2 separate regions of the Homo sapiens genome follow, and region 2 is linked to region 1. The links come from fine-mapping of genetic effects on gene expression. Tissue or cell type: putamen. Region 1 holds a variant in brackets; the other region holds the start of a gene. All regions are shown on one strand. Distances are from middle to middle.

The links. PIP is the estimated chance that this variant, and not a neighbour inherited with it, causes the effect.
Region 2: it holds the start of FLT4, and the variant in region 1 is fine-mapped to the expression of FLT4 in putamen (GTEx, PIP above 0.99).

The regions. Positions count from the first base shown.
Region 1 is chr5:180,615,533-180,623,635 of GRCh38, reverse strand. FLT4 (fms related receptor tyrosine kinase 4) reads left to right here. Exons shown (of 30, transcript NM_182925.5): 12 at 797-905; 13 at 1,732-2,094; 14 at 2,384-2,530; 15 at 2,629-2,760; 16 at 2,921-3,027; 17 at 3,328-3,463; 18 at 3,867-3,971; 19 at 4,270-4,383; 20 at 4,527-4,615; 21 at 4,716-4,866; 22 at 6,642-6,736; 23 at 7,147-7,269. Among named protein-coding and RNA genes, the nearest start is that of SCGB3A1, 28 kb to the right of the region's middle. RefSeq lists an enhancer at 2,606-3,805. The variant C/TAGGGTAACCC (reference allele first, on the strand shown) is at 4,936.
Region 2 is chr5:180,646,567-180,654,669 of GRCh38, reverse strand. FLT4 (fms related receptor tyrosine kinase 4) reads left to right here and starts at 5,070. Exons shown (of 30, transcript NM_182925.5): 1 at 5,070-5,182. The coding sequence starts at 5,125.

The sequences.
Region 1 (8,103 bases):
GGGACAGGGCTGGAGGCTGACCAGGTCTGCACAGAGGGCTGCTGAGCCGCTGGCGCAGCCTGGGGGCAACGCCGAGAAGGGGGTACTGAACAAAGGCACCTACTTCCTCCAGTCACTTCCTGTTTTCCTACACACCTCCAGAGCCTCTTCCTGTTCCAGTCCTGGACAGGAAGTGCCCAGCTGGGGGTGGGGTGGGGGTGGGGGTCTTTGGATGGTAGGCAGGGCCTGTGGCCCTCTCTCCTCCCCTGTGTCTCAGGCTTCCTACTCCCTGAGGCCTCAGTCCTTCTGGGAGCCATCCCCACCCCTCTCAATAACCCTGGGCCTCGGGATTGCTGCTGAGGACAGTTCTGGGCTGAGGAGGCCATCTCACGAGGATCTCAGCAAGCAGCGACTGGATTGGGCCTGACCCCATCCAGAAGTGACTGGCTTTTGCTGTGACCCAGGCTGAATTCTCACCCTGGCTTGCACTGACGCTGGTGCCCCCTCAACATAGCCACGGCCAGAGGTCTCTCTGGTCCTGCCAAAGGCTGCCCTCTGACGTCACTGCAGCCTAGGCCAGCAGTCCATACACTGTCCCTTGACTTTTCTGGGCAGCTACCTCTCTCTGCTGCCCAGGGGCCTTCTCTCCTCTGCCTCACTATCCCTGGTCCTGTGAGTTTTGGTCTTCTCCAGCCCAAAGCCTCAGTTTCCCCCATGATTGGGGGGGGTGGTGCACAGCGACCTCCTTGCAGAAAGACAGGGCCCAGGTTGGGAGAACTTGGGCAGGAAATGGATCCTTGTGCCTGTGCTCTCCCAGACTGTGAGCAAGCTGGTGATCCAGAATGCCAACGTGTCTGCCATGTACAAGTGTGTGGTCTCCAACAAGGTGGGCCAGGATGAGCGGCTCATCTACTTCTATGTGACCAGTGAGTGACCAGACCAGGGCGGGGAGGCCTGGGTACAGGGTCAGGAGGGGGCAGGTTTGGGCTCATTGAGTTTCTGGGGTCTTTGGGACACCCAGGAGAGAGATCCAAGGCCTACCGGTTGTAGACAGGAAAAATAGATTTAAGGGTCACCAGCATAGGGCCTGGGTGCTGGCGCACTGGGATGGAATGGCATCCTCTGTCCCCAACCCTGGGGCTCCTCCCTCAAGGATGCCCTTGGCTCACTGCAGCTCCTCCTAGCTATACCCACTCCCACCCTCCCCTTCCCAAGCCCTGAGACCTTGTGACTCGTGTGAATTTTGCTCTGGGGAGAAGCTCTGTGGTTTACTCAGATTTTCAAATGTGGTAGTGACCTCAGGAGAGCGGAGCCCAGGAGCAGACGTCACTGGGTCCCAGAATGTAGATCAGGGCACCAGCAGAGAGATGTAGATCAGGGCACCAGCAGAGAGATGGAGCCCAAAAGAACACCCGGGGGCTGGGGGGCCACAGGAGCCTGACCAGAAGTGACCAGAGAGACAAGAGGAAGTGGGCGCACGGCACTGGGAAAAGCCAGGGAACACGTTATTTCAGGCTGAGCATGGGGTGGGGCATGGCAAGCTTCAAGAGAGAATGAGGACTCAAGTCCCACTGAGGGTGACAAGGAACTCCTGATGACCTGGGCTTTTGGTGGGGCGGGGGGCAAGCAGTCCAGCTGGGGCCCCTCCAGGAGAGAGGGAGGGAGGGAGGCAGGAGGAGACCCCGGGGCGGCAGGTGGATGGGGGAGCAAACTCCCAGGGCAGTGCCACAGGGCTTCTTCCTCCCTCCACAGCCATCCCCGACGGCTTCACCATCGAATCCAAGCCATCCGAGGAGCTACTAGAGGGCCAGCCGGTGCTCCTGAGCTGCCAAGCCGACAGCTACAAGTACGAGCATCTGCGCTGGTACCGCCTCAACCTGTCCACGCTGCACGATGCGCACGGGAACCCGCTTCTGCTCGACTGCAAGAACGTGCATCTGTTCGCCACCCCTCTGGCCGCCAGCCTGGAGGAGGTGGCACCTGGGGCGCGCCACGCCACGCTCAGCCTGAGTATCCCCCGCGTCGCGCCCGAGCACGAGGGCCACTATGTGTGCGAAGTGCAAGACCGGCGCAGCCATGACAAGCACTGCCACAAGAAGTACCTGTCGGTGCAGGGTGAGGCTGGCCGCGGGGAGGGCGGGGACGCGCTCTCTTCTAGCAGTAGCTGCCTCTGCCTTTGCCCCGGCGTGGCTCGCCCCTGGGAGGTCTATTCACAGCCCTGGCCTGCAGGAGCTACCCCTCCTGACTATCCGCCGCCCCCTGCGGAGGCGCGCCGCGCTCCTGCCCGGCGCACAACCCCTAAGTCCAGCTTCCAGGGATCCTTTTCTACCTCTGCTCCCAGCCCAAAGAGGGTCCTCCTGCTAAGTGCAGCTCCACTTAGCTCCCTCTCGACCCCTGCCCCCAGCCCTGGAAGCCCCTCGGCTCACGCAGAACTTGACCGACCTCCTGGTGAACGTGAGCGACTCGCTGGAGATGCAGTGCTTGGTGGCCGGAGCGCACGCGCCCAGCATCGTGTGGTACAAAGACGAGAGGCTGCTGGAGGAAAAGTCTGGTAGGGAGGGTGGCCCTGGCGAAGGGCAGGTCCGGAGGCCCGCGAGGCCGACGATCCCAAACCCAGGTGGACCCGCACCTCCACCCCACCCCCTGCAGGAGTCGACTTGGCGGACTCCAACCAGAAGCTGAGCATCCAGCGCGTGCGCGAGGAGGATGCGGGACGCTATCTGTGCAGCGTGTGCAACGCCAAGGGCTGCGTCAACTCCTCCGCCAGCGTGGCCGTGGAAGGTCTGGCCTCAGGCTGCACCCCTCAACTCCCTTCCCGTCCCCAGTTAACGCTTTCTTGTGGCCACCTTGGGCAAGTCGTGGCCACCAGAAGGGGTGCTGCCTGCAGGTGCACGCTCTTACACACACACACACACACGCCGGCCCCTTTCTGCCCACGCAGGCTCCGAGGATAAGGGCAGCATGGAGATCGTGATCCTTGTCGGTACCGGCGTCATCGCTGTCTTCTTCTGGGTCCTCCTCCTCCTCATCTTCTGTAACATGAGGAGGGTGAGTGTCCCTCCCCGCTCCTGATGGAGTCTCTCTCAGGCCTTCCCCACCCTGGCCGCCCCTAAGATAAAGAATAAGGTGCCCGCCCTAGTTCACCTGGCAGCCTTGTTTCCTGGGAAGCCTCCCTGCCCTTCACGCTGGGCTCCAACCCCGCAGAGGTTGTCTGTCTTTTTTTCTGTCCCCTCCTTGACTGAGAACCCCGCAGGAAGTGCCATCTGTCCTGGGCAAAGTTCTGCCCAAGCCACAGTGGTATGGCCAAATCAGTGAGCTGCCCCACTCCTCCCTGTCCCCTCCCCGCAGCCGGCCCACGCAGACATCAAGACGGGCTACCTGTCCATCATCATGGACCCCGGGGAGGTGCCTCTGGAGGAGCAATGCGAATACCTGTCCTACGATGCCAGCCAGTGGGAATTCCCCCGAGAGCGGCTGCACCTGGGTGAGGCCAGCACCAGCCTGCCCAACCCACACCTCCTGCCCGACCCACCTGCTGCAGGCCGGAGTGCCTGAATCCCTCCATTTTCAAAACTTGCACCAGGAAGTTCCGCCTGGCCTGACCTGTCCCTGTGGGCGTGGGTACCTAGAACCTCAGCCAGGGTCCCCAGTTCCCAGGCTCCCTGAGGTCACCTGCTGCCACCCTGAGCAGGGTGTATCTGTCACACCTACCCGGGAGGATGCGCGGCCTCCTGTCCACCTCTCCTTGTCTTCCCGCTGTGGCTCCCCACGCTCCTCCTGCTGCCAGGCCTGTCCTCCTGGACCTCTGCACGGGGCTCCCCCGCCGCCCACCTGTCTCCACGCTCACCCCGTACAGCTCACCTGCAACTGGCCCCCTGCCCCGACAGGGAGAGTGCTCGGCTACGGCGCCTTCGGGAAGGTGGTGGAAGCCTCCGCTTTCGGCATCCACAAGGGCAGCAGCTGTGACACCGTGGCCGTGAAAATGCTGAAAGGTGTGGGGTCAGCGGGCGGAAGGGGCAGCCTAGCTGGTGAGGAGCAGCAGCTCGGGGTGGGCCGGTGGGACGGCAACTCGGGAAGGGAGACTGAGGCTGGAAGCCAGTCTCATCCGAGATTCTACAGGGAGGCTGCGGGCTTCAGAGCCGAGGGACCACCCGAACCCCCTCTGCCTCAGTGGGGCCGGCAGGATGTCCTGGGGGCCCTTAGTAACCCTCCCCCTCCCAAAAGCGCCGGGTGGCGGGGAACGGGGACCTGCCAGGGTCGGGGCCGGTGTGAGGCCCGTGTCCCCTCCAGAGGGCGCCACGGCCAGCGAGCACCGCGCGCTGATGTCGGAGCTCAAGATCCTCATTCACATCGGCAACCACCTCAACGTGGTCAACCTCCTCGGGGCGTGCACCAAGCCGCAGGGTACGGAGCGGGCGGCCCGCTGGGACGGCGAGACCCCGGGCGCGGGGCGCCGCGGGCGGGAGGGGGCGCGGGTGCAAACGCGGAGCGCGCCCGCAGCGCGCCCCGGGTTCCGAACGCACGGCCGCCGCCCGGTCCCGCCGCAGGCCCCCTCATGGTGATCGTGGAGTTCTGCAAGTACGGCAACCTCTCCAACTTCCTGCGCGCCAAGCGGGACGCCTTCAGCCCCTGCGCGGTGAGCGGGCGGCCTGCGGGGCGCCGCGGGCGGCGGGGGAATGGAGGCGCCTCTGCGGCGGACGACTGGGCGCCCTCGAGCCAGCTTCGTGCATCCGCAGGAGAAGTCTCCCGAGCAGCGCGGACGCTTCCGCGCCATGGTGGAGCTCGCCAGGCTGGATCGGAGGCGGCCGGGGAGCAGCGACAGGGTCCTCTTCGCGCGGTTCTCGAAGACCGAGGGCGGAGCGAGGCGGGCTTCTCCAGACCAAGAAGGTGAGAGCCTGGCCTCTTCCCTTTTCCTAGTGCCTGACGGGCCCGGTTATATCCCGTGATCAGGCACCC[C/TAGGGTAACCC]AGCCTGGGGTCCTCAGCGGGGGCTTTCATGGGAGAGTGTGGAATGGGCTCTGCCTTAGGAAGGGAAGACACCTCGGGGACAATTTTCACACAGATGTTTTACGATTGACTGGGTCATCAGAGGCTGAATAGGAAATTGCCCTGCAGACAAGGCAGGCAGTGGAGGGCCAAGCAGCAGGTGCCCGGCCCCCACAGAGCAACAGTATTTACTGCTCTGGGAGTAGGACGTGGGTGTCCCAGAGGCTGAGGGGCAGGAGAGGGTCCTCTGGAGTAGGACGTGGGTGTCCCAGAGGCTGAGGAGCAGGAGAGGGTGCTCTGGAGTAGGATGTGGGTGTCCCAGAGGCTGAGGGGCAGGAGAGGGTGCTCTGGGAGTAGGACGTGGGTGTCCCAGAGGCTGAGGGGCAGGAGAGGGTGCTCTGGAGTAGGACGTGGGTGTCCCAGAGGCTGAGGGGCAGGAGAGGGTGCTCTGGGAGTAGGACGTGGGTGTCCCAGAGGCTGAGGGGCAGGAGAGGGTGCTCTGGAATAGGATGTGGGTGTCCCAGAGGCTGAGGGGCAGGAGAGGGTGCTCTGGAATAGGATGTGGGTGTCCCAGAGGCTGAGGGGCAGGAGAGGGTGCTCTGGGAGTAGGACGTGGGTGTCCCAGAGGCTGAGGGGCAGGAGAGGGTGCTCTGGAGTAGGATGTGGGTGTCCCAGAGGCTGAGTGGCAGGAGAGGGTACTCTGGAATAGGATGTGGGTGTCCCAGAGGCTGAGGGGCAGGAGAGGGTGCTCTGGGAGTAGGACGTGGGTGTCCCAGAGGCTGAGTGGCAGGAGAGGGTGCTCTGGAATAGGACGTGGGTGTCCCAGAGGTTGAGGGGCAGGAGAGGGTGCTCTGGGAGTAGGACGTGGGTGTCCCAGAGGCTGAGGGGCAGGAGAGGGTGCTCTGGAATAGGACGTGGGTGTACCAGAGGCTGAGGGGCAGGAGAGGGTGCTCTGGAGTAGGACGTGGGTGTCCCAGAGGCTGAGGGGCAGGAGAGGGTGCTCTGGAGTAGGACGTGGGTGTCCCAGAGGCTGAGGGGCAGGAGAGGGTGCTCTGGAATAGGACGTGGGTGTCCCAGAGGCTGAGGGGCAGGAGAGGGTGCTCTGGAGTAGGACGTGGGTGTCCCAGAGGCTGAGGGGCAGGAGAGGGTGCTCTGGAGTAGGACGTGGGTGTCCCAGAGGCTGAGGGGCAGGAGAGGGTGCTCTGGAGTAGGACGTGGGTGTCCCAGAGGCTGAGGGGCAGGAGAGGGTGCTCTGGAGTAGGATGTGGGTGTCCCAGAGGCTGAGGGGCAGGAGAGGGTGCTCTGGAGTAGGACGTGGGTGTCCCAGAGTCTGAGGGGCAGGAGAGGGTGCTCTGGAGTAGGACGTGGGTGTCCCAGAGTCTGAGGGGCAGGAGAGGGTGCTCTGGAGTAGGACGTGTGTGTCCCAGAGGCTGAGGGGCAGGAGAGGGTGCTCTGGAGTAGGACGTGGGTGTCCCAGAGGCTGAGGGGCAGGAGAGGGTGCTCTGGAGTAGGATGTGGGTGTCCCAGAGGCTGAGGGGCAGGAGAGGGTGCTCTGGAGTAGGATGTGGGTGTCCCAGAGTCTGAGGGGCAGGAGAGGGGCTGACATGCTTGTTAGCTGTTCCCTGGGGCTGGGTAGATGGAGGCCGCGGAGGAGGCGCCTCCTGAGCCCACCTGGCTCCACTGTGTAGCTGAGGACCTGTGGCTGAGCCCGCTGACCATGGAAGATCTTGTCTGCTACAGCTTCCAGGTGGCCAGAGGGATGGAGTTCCTGGCTTCCCGAAAGGTGAGCTTCCCCCGAAGGCCCTTCAGACGGGAAAAGGGTGCATCCCCACCAGTCGCCAAGAAGTGCTTGGTACTGGCCTCACCCTGCAATGGCTCTGTGGTCCATCAGTGTCTCTCCCACTTTGCAGAGGAGGAAACTCTGCCCAAAGCATGGAGTTGACCTCCCAAGGTCTCTTGGCTGGTCAGCAGCAGAGTCTGTTTGACTCCACAACTTTCTCTGCTGTCCCCACAATTCCACAAGCTCTCTCCATGATGAGTCCTGGAGATGGATGGGAATCCTTCCCCAAAGGAGCACAGTTCAGGCAGGGCATCCCCATGGTCCCCACTGCTTGGGCACCCTGGAGTTTCGGGTGTGGGTATTACCCCAGGGGCCTGCACTGACAGCCCCCCTGCCGCCTCCCCGCACCCCAGTGCATCCACAGAGACCTGGCTGCTCGGAACATTCTGCTGTCGGAAAGCGACGTGGTGAAGATCTGTGACTTTGGCCTTGCCCGGGACATCTACAAAGACCCCGACTACGTCCGCAAGGGCAGTGTGAGTGCAGGCCATTGAGGAGAGGGAACGTGGGGCGGAACAGGTGAAGGGGTGGGACCACAGACTGCCTGTCCAGGAGAGGGAGGGCTGGCACAGGGTGAGGTGAGCTCCTTGGTTGGCCAGCCATGTGCCCAGCTGCTGGTGGACCTCCTGCCCCCAGGGGACCCTACTGACCACCCCCCACCTTAGGCATCTTGGGGCAAGGAAGTGGAGAAGGGAGGTGACCGGCAGGCCCAGTGCTCCGAAAGGAAGTGGAGAAGGGAGGTGACCGGCAGGCCCAGTGCTCCGAAAGGAAGTGGAGAAGGGAGGTGACCGGCAGGCCCAGTGCTCCGAAAGGAAGTGGAGAAGGGAGGTGACCGGCAGGCCCAGTGCTCCGAAAGGAAGTGGAGAAGGGAGGTGACCGGCGGGGCCCAGTGCTCCGAAAGGAAGTGGAGAAGGGAGGTGACCGGCGGGGCCCAGTGCTCCGAAAGGAAGTGGAGAAGGGAGGTGACCGGCAGGCCCAGTGCTCCGAAAGGAAGTGGAGAAGGGAGGTGACCGGCAGGCCCAGTGCTCCGAAAGGAAGTGGAGAAGGGAGGTGACCGGCGGGGCCCAGTGCTCCGAAAGGAAGTGGAGAAGGGAGGTGACCGGCGGGCCCAGTGCTCCGAAAGGAAGTGGATTTCGGAAGTGGAGAAGGGAGGTGACCGGCAGGCCCAGTGCTCCGAAAGGAAGTGGAGAAGGGAGGTGACCGGCGGGCCCAGTGCTCCGAAAGGAAGTGGAGAAGGGAGGTGACCAGCGGGACCCAGTGCTCCGAAAGGAAGTGGAGAAGGGAGGTGACCGGCGGGCCCAGTGCTCCGA
Region 2 (8,103 bases), 31 kb before region 1:
AACCTTAAGTTTGTTTTAGCTGAGTTCCTTCCTCAGGAAACAACCTTCAGTCCTCTAAAAAAATAAAAAAATAAAGTATCAAAGAACTGAGAATCGCCAGATCTCCACATCCAGACAATGATGCTGGACCGTTCATTCATCATGACTGCTTCCTTGCCCCTCCTTAGTTTTTGTTTTGTTACACATTGTTTCATTTCTTCCTTGCTATGTAAAGCCCTGGTTTTAGTTGGTCAGGGAGATGGATTTGTCAGCCACAGCACCTGATTAAAACGTTCCTCCTTGACAATACTTGTCTCCTCTGTCATTGGCTTTCTGTATGGTGGGCGGCCGGACCTAGACGGAACCTGTGATGTTTTGGTGACAGTATCAGTACAAAAATAGACAAAGCTGAGAAAATGAACCATTCCGTGTAGATCGTTAATGTATGACTGAGGGGGAGCTAGAGAAAAGTGTAGAAAGCATGACCTTCTCATCATGGTCATGAGATAGCAAGATACCTTTTTTTTTTTTTTTTTTGAGACGGACTCTCACTCCGTGACCCAGGCTGGAGTGCAGTGGTGCAATCTCTGCTCACTGCAAGCTCCGCCTCCCAGGTTCACGCCATCCTCCTGCCTCAGCCTCCCGAGTAGCTGGGACTACAGGCCTCCGCCACCACACCTAGCTAACTTTTTTGTATTTTTTGGTAGAGACGGGGTTTCACCATGTTCGCTAGGATGGTCTCGATCTCCTGACCTCGTGATCTGCCCACCTCGGCCTCCCAGAGTGCTGGGATTACAGGCGTGAGCCACAGCGCCCGGCCAGTAGCAAGATATCTTTACGGGGTGAAAGACAGAAACTCGACACATGCACCTACTTTACGCTACACAGAGAAGGCAATTCCAGGGCCCGCAGGTCTAAATATGAAAGAGAAAATAAAACATTAAAATTTATAAGTGATAAAAAATAGTAAATATCTTCATGACATCAAGATAAAGGTTTCTTTAAAAGAACACAAGGCCGGGCGCAGTGGCTCACGCCTGTAATCCCAGCACTTTGGGAGGCCGAGGTGGGCGGATCACCTGAGGTCAAGAGTTCATGACCAGCCTGGCCAACATGACGAAACCCCATCTCTACTAAAAATACAAAATTTAGCCAGGCATGGTGGCACACGCATGTAGTCCCAGCTACTCGGGAGGCTGAGGCAGGAGAATCGCTTGAACCCGGGAGGCGGAGGTTGCAGTGAACCGAGATCTTGCCACTGCACTCCAGCCTGGGCAACAGAGCACGGCTCCATCGCAAACAAAAAATAATAGTAATAAAATAATGAGATAACACAAGTAACACCAGCCATAAGGAAACCAATTTGTAAGCGTGCTGTGTTAAAATGAAAATCTTCTGTCTTCATCCTGCCTCCCAAAAAGAGAGCATTACGGAAGTGAAAATTCAGACCCCGAATGAGAGGAGATGTGTAGCACAATGTACCCAAGTTCCTTTTCCACAGATGGCCTTGGCAGTGTCTGCCATCCCACATGCTCTTCTGCATGTGACCTTGCCTCTCTCTAATAATTGTGGGGAACATGTCCCCTAGGCAGGCTGTGACTTCTTCGAGACTATCTAGTTTCCACCTAGTTCTCTTGGATAGTCACTCTGGGGAAGCCACCTGCTACACAAGAACTTCAACTAATGTGGGATTGTCATGCTGGAAAGACACCGAATGGGCGCACTGGTTGGCAGCCCCAGCTGAGCTTCTGGACAACAGCCAGCACCGACCACCAGGCATCCAACCCAGCTAAGTAAGCCCTTGTCAAATTCCTGACTCTCAAAAGCATGAGCAAAACGAAATAGCTGCTGCTTTGCCCCACAACATCTTGGAGTACTTCATTATACAGCAATAATAAAGGAACTGATAAAAGACTCATATGCAGAATATATAAAGAACTACAAATCAATAAGAAAAAGACAGATGGGGAGTCGTAAAGAGCAAAAGACTTGAAATCTAAATGGCCAATTATAAAAATGTGCTCAACCGCAATGGTAATTAAGGAAAAGCTAATAGATCAGGCATGGTGGCTCACCTCCGTTAATCCCAGCACTTCGGGTGACTGAGGCGGGTGGATTACCCGAGGTCAGGAGTTTGAGGCCAGCATGGCTAACATGGTGAAATCCCGTCTCCACTAAAAATACAAAAATTAGCTGGGCATGGTGGCGTATGCCTGTAATCCCAGCTTCTCCAGGGGCTGAGGCAGGAGAATTGCTTGAACCTGGGAGGTGGAAGTTGCAGCGAGCCAGGATCGCGCCATTGCACTCCAGCCTGGGAACAGAGCAAGGCTCTGTCTCAAAAAAAAAAAAAAAAAAAAAAAATAGCTAATGAAACCGCAATGAGATGCCAATGCAAACCAACTAGAATGGCCACATTTTAAAAACCAAAACTGACAATACTGTGGGTAAAGGTGTGCGGCAGCGGTAACTGCTTACGCTGCCATGATCATGCAAAATGGTACAAATCACTTGAAAAAATACTTGGCACTGGCTACCAAAGTTGAAGACAGCATGTGTACACCAGGAAACACATACAAGAGTGTTGTGGCAAAAGTTGGAAACTGGTAACCACTCAAACTTCCATTAATAGTAGATGGACAAATTGTGGTGTATCCTACTGTGGAAAACTATGCAGTTACGAAAATGAGCAAAGTATAGATCATCACAGCAATATAGATGAATCTCACTAATGGTGTTGAGCAAAAGAATATAAATGGTATGAAGGCACTGAGATAAAGTGGAAAAAAAAAACAACAAGCAAAATGTGAGCTAAACTGTAGGGACACAAACACACAGAGAGGAGTAATAGACACTGGAGACTCCAAAAGCAGGGAGGGAGGGCAAGAGGTAAGGACTGAAAAATCACCTTTTGGGTAGAGTGTCCACTGTACAGGTGACGCGTACACTAAAAGCCCAGACTTCACCTGTACACAATATATGAATTAAGAAATCTGCACTTATGTCCTCTAAGTATACTTTAAAATTTTAAAAGCACATTCTGGCTGGATGCGGCGGCTCATCCCTGTCATCCCAGCATTCTGGGAGGCTGAGGCAGGTGGATCACTTGAGCCCAGGAGTTCAAGACCAGCTTGGGCAACGTGGCGAAAACCCAGCTATGCAAAAAAGTCACTGGGTGTGGTGGCGCACATCTGTGGTCCCAGCTACTTGGGAGGCTGAGGTGGGAGGATCATTTGAGCCCGGGGGGTGCTGAGGCTGCGGTGAGCAGATATCATGTCACTGCACTCCAGCCTGGGTGACAAAGTGAGACCCTGTCTAAAACAACAACAACAACAAAAAAAAAACAAGTATATTCTGGGCGGGGCACAGTGGCTCATGCCTATAATCCCAGCACTTTGGGAGGCTGAGGTTGGCAGATCAGGAAGTCAGGAGTTTGAGACCAGCCTGGTCAACATGGTTAAACCCCCATCTCTACTAAAAATACAAAAATTAGCCGGGCATGGTGCCGGGTGCCTGGAATCACAGCTACTCAGGAGGCTGAGGCGGGAGAATTGCTTGACCCCAGGAGGCAGAGGTTGCATTGCAGTGCAGTGAGATCGTCCCACTGCACTCCAGCCTGGGCAACAAAAGAGAGACTTTGAGAAAAAAAAAAAAAAGTACATTCTGAAAAAAAAAGCAAAACATATATTTTGATGATAAAATGATAAACAAAAGCAGGGAAATGATAATGCCAGGGTAGTGGGCATCTTCTGGGGTTGGTGAGGGGTTTGTGATGGGAAGTGAGGGGATGTGGGGATGTCATTCTACATCCCTTGGCCTGGAGAATGGAAACACAGGTATTTGTTGCTTTAAAATTCAGGTTTATAATATGCTGATATATTATGTACTTTCCATAAGTGTGTTACATCTCATAATCTTTCAAAGCTAAAAAAAATCAATATATGATTGATAAATACCTAACTTCATGTATCGCTTGGTTACCTAGTTTCCCCAACCTTATTTGTTAAATTATCTACACTATCCGCACTGATTTGTGATTCCAGCTTAATAATATAGCCACTTCTTACCTGGATTGGAGAGAGCTGGTAGTGGTTATTGAAAATCTACTCTTGCTTTTTGGCGAGGATGAAAGGGCTTTGGGGGGCGGGGGTGGGGGGATGGAAAATGTGAATGAAACGAAAAGCAGGGAAGGAGGTTGAGACAGTCATGGTCATGGGCTTCATTATTAAACAGGAAAATTCTAGAGACAAACTGAAAAGAGAACGGAAGTCTGTAAGAGGGTTGCCAAGTCAGAAAGCAAAAGCAAAGTGTCGCTTTATTAAAAAGGTGGGGGCGGGTCCTGATTGAGCTGAGAACAAAACATCTGGGGGAGTTCTAAAGCTAGGAGGCCAGGCCTGCAGGGAGGGGGTCGGTCATCCCGGGTGTCCCGCTCACGGGTGCGGCTTCCGTCGACACTGTCCGTCGACACTGTGCAGGTAAACACTGCTGAACGGGTTTTGTTTTTGCTTTTTTTTTTTTTTTTTTGGCTCCCAGACTGGAGTGCAGTGGCGCGATCTCGGCTCACTGCAACCTCCTTCTCCCGGGTTCAAGCGATTCTCCTGCCTCAGCCCCCCCGAGAAGCTGGGATTACAGGCGCGCACAACCAAGCTCGGCGTATTATTTTATTTATTTGCTTGTTTATTTTTGAGACTGGGTCTCCCTATGTTACGCCGGCTGGTGCCACTATTTTCAAAGATGTAACATACTATTTTTACAAGGATTGCTTTCTTGTTTAGTCTAGATTTTACCGATGGAAAGAAAGGACGGAAAAGAGCGCGTGCCGCATTTTGCTCCCCTTTGCCCACCAGGCTCCATCACCTCCGGAGCGCATCGCGAGACCGTCTGCGTTACCCGCGTCCCCGCGCCCGGAGCCGCCCAGGAGGGGGCCCGGACCCTGTGGTGCGGAGCGCGCACTGCTCGGGTGCACCGGACGCCCCGCGGCGGGCTGGGAGGGACGGGGGGAGGGGGGCGCGGGGAGCGGCCTGAATCCCGGGCCCGCCTCCGGCCCCCGCCCCGCCCCGCCCCGCCCCAGGCCAGCCGGCGCCCGCGCGGACACTTTCAGCCCCGAGCCGCGGCCGCTCGGGTCGGACCCACGCGCAGCGGCCGGAGATGCAGCGGGGCGCCGCGCTGTGCCTGCGACTGTGGCTCTGCCTGGGACTCCTGGACGGTGAGCGCGGCGAACGGGCCACCCGCCCGAGCGTGGGGCTGGCCGGGGAGGGGGTACCGCGCACCTGGGGCGGGCGCTGAGACCGCTCCGCCGGGTACGGGCGGGGGACACGGTGGCCCTGGTGCGCGGACGCCTGAGGGGAGCACGGCGCTTGGGGCGCGGGACCTCGGGATGAGGAAGGGGCGGGCGGGGACCGCAGCCGGGTCAGGGCCAGGGCGGCCGGGCCGCGCCTCGGCGCAGGGGTAGCTCTCCCGGCCCCTGAATCCGCGTCTCCGTCGGTGGCTCCGCGTCCTCGGAGCCGGGCCCTGCCGGGCTGCGCGCTGAGCCCGGATCCTTCGCGCCCTTACTCGCTTCCCCGCGGGGTCCCCGCGCCGCGCCGTCCCGACCCACGCGCGCCGGAGATCCATCCCGGCCGGGCCCCGGACTTGGGTGCGCACTTCCCGACGCCCAGCGCCTCCGCTCGCGGTCGGTCCCCCAGAGGGCGCTCGAGGCGGGCTTCCCCCTCCCCGTGGCCGGCGACGGCGGGGACAGGGGCCGGGGACCACCGCGCGCCCGAGGCGGACGGGTGCAGGTGCACGCTGGCACTTGAGACGAATCTTGAGGAGGCGAATCGCGGGCTGTCAGCGCCGCAGAAGGGGCGGAAGGCCAGGGGTCCCCGGATTTGAGGGGACAGGGGCCTCGAAGGCCAGCTGAGGAGCAGAGGCCCCCGCGGGAGGGTCCCCTGCACAGGAGAGGCGGGGTTCGGTTTGTGTTGGGATGTGGCTCTGGCGGGGAGAGACGCAGACCTGAAGCGGAGGCGGAGGGGTTGGAAAGAGGGACTGTGGGGGATGAGCGGGCGGCAGAGGGAGTGGATGGAGATGTCAGGGAGGAAGCTGAGAAGATGAGCTGGGAGTCCCCACGGAGCTGGTGTCCCTGGAAATCAAAGGGTGTAAGGGCGGGGTCAGGGGTTCCAGTGTCTGAAGCCCTGAAGTCAGCGACGGGGACCTCAACATTTCTGCACGCCATAGGAATTAAATACTGGCTTTACATGCTTGTAATTCTCACAGGGAGTGTCAGACCCATTTTACACATGGAGAAGCTTAGACCAAGGACATGTGTCACTTCCCCAAGGTCCCCAGGAGGCCCAAAGTAAGCCTGACAAAGCCTGCCTTTGCTCACCACCTGTATGTCCACTGGCTGAAGGGCAGAGGACAGGAGAGGGGGCAGGTCTGGCTCAACCAGGGGAGGAGGGAGGAGAACATCTATCTGGGCCTCCGAGTCGGGCAGGCCAGATCAGGGCGCTGCCCTTGGCCCTCCTGGACCCAGCCCAGGACCAGGCTCCCACAGGTGCTCAGGATGTATTTGTCGAGTGGCTGGTAGACCTTGGTTGGACTGCAGGGCTGTAGAATGGGAGACGCTTATCCTGGAGGAGACATGGGACAGGCACCTGGGCGCAGTGTCTGAGCTGGGCTGAGTAGCTGGAGAGGAAGAGAGAGACCCGGGAGGGGAACCCTGGAGGAGGGGCCCAGAGGGCAAGGGGGCTTCCAGGGATCCAGGGAACATTCTGCAGGTATAAGGAGAACCAGGAGAGGCCAGTGTCCTGGTGCTCCCGGGTGGAGCACAGAGGGACGTGGGGTGAAGGGTGAGGAAGCTATTCCCTGCAGTAAGTAGTGACTCTTAGTGACCCAGTTATGAAGAGGAGAGAGGGCATTAGTTGGGCGCCCCATGGAGAGGGGTGTCCTGGGCTGGACCTGGGTTTGGCTGGTGGGGAGATGGCAATGAAGACAGAGGTCATCCCTCCGTGAGCCCTGCACCTTGCTGTACCCCCTGCTAGGCTGAAGACCCCGGGAGCCCCCAGCTTGATGGGGGATGCCATGGCGGAAGCACAAGCCCTCAGCTGCAGTCGGGTGTCAGGGCAGCTGGTCCGGTGGGAGCTGCAGTCGGGTGTCAGGGCAGCTGGTCCGGTGGGAGCAGGCCAGAAGCCTGAGCATCCTGAAGCTGACCCCTTAAAAGTGTGCTATTGATCATAGAACCAGACTCTTGTCCTGCCTCTGCCGTAAAGTCCTTTCTGTGTGACCTGGGCCCCCTCCTTTCCCCTCCCTGCACCTCAGTTTCCCCAAGCATAGCCATGGCACAAGCATAGCCATGGCACAAGCATAGCCATGGCACAAGCTGGCAAGCCCCGAGGTTGTGTGGGTTGTGTGTGCTTGGGCTGGACTCCAAGACCCAGATGCCTGCTGCAGTTCCACAGTCTTGCCCCAGTGGAGAGGGTAGGTCACAGATGTCTCTTGGGGCTTAGTCTAGAGAGAGGCCATTGGCACCTCTGCACTGTGGCTACCAGCTCAGGGACATGCAGGAGCAGGGTCTGCTGGGCATCTGGAGTGGCCTGGTCTCAGGACGTTTGCCCTTGCTGTGACCTGGGTCACAAAGGCCCAGATGTGGACAGATGTGTGGCCCAGGGATGCAAGTCACTGCAGGCAGGATGTGGGGATCAGGCCCACTTTACTTGGGCCTGGGGACCTTCTGCTCCAGCTCAGGGCTCTGAGGACTCGAATGCAGGTGCTGTTCCCTCATCCACCAGGCCTATGGCACAGAGCCAGTGTGGCTGAAGGAGTCCTGAGCCCTCCCAGAGCATAGGGCCCACATGGCTGGGCCCAGACAGGGTACGAGGTGTGATGTGTGGTCTGTCTGGCGAATTCTTCACTGTAACCCCCAGCAGTGGCACCCCGACCCAGGGAAGGAGCCTGCAGTTCTATGCAAGACCCCAGCATAGTGCCTGTTCGGGGTGGCCCAGGGAGGACTTGGACCTGGCCCCATCGCACAGGGGTTTCCTGTGCCTTGCAGGGACACAGACATGCCATCAGACGTGTATTGCCCAGGGATGAAAGTGTTCAGGGGCCCTGGTGAGGCCCAGCTGGTGGCTGTAAGCTGCACAGGAAGGC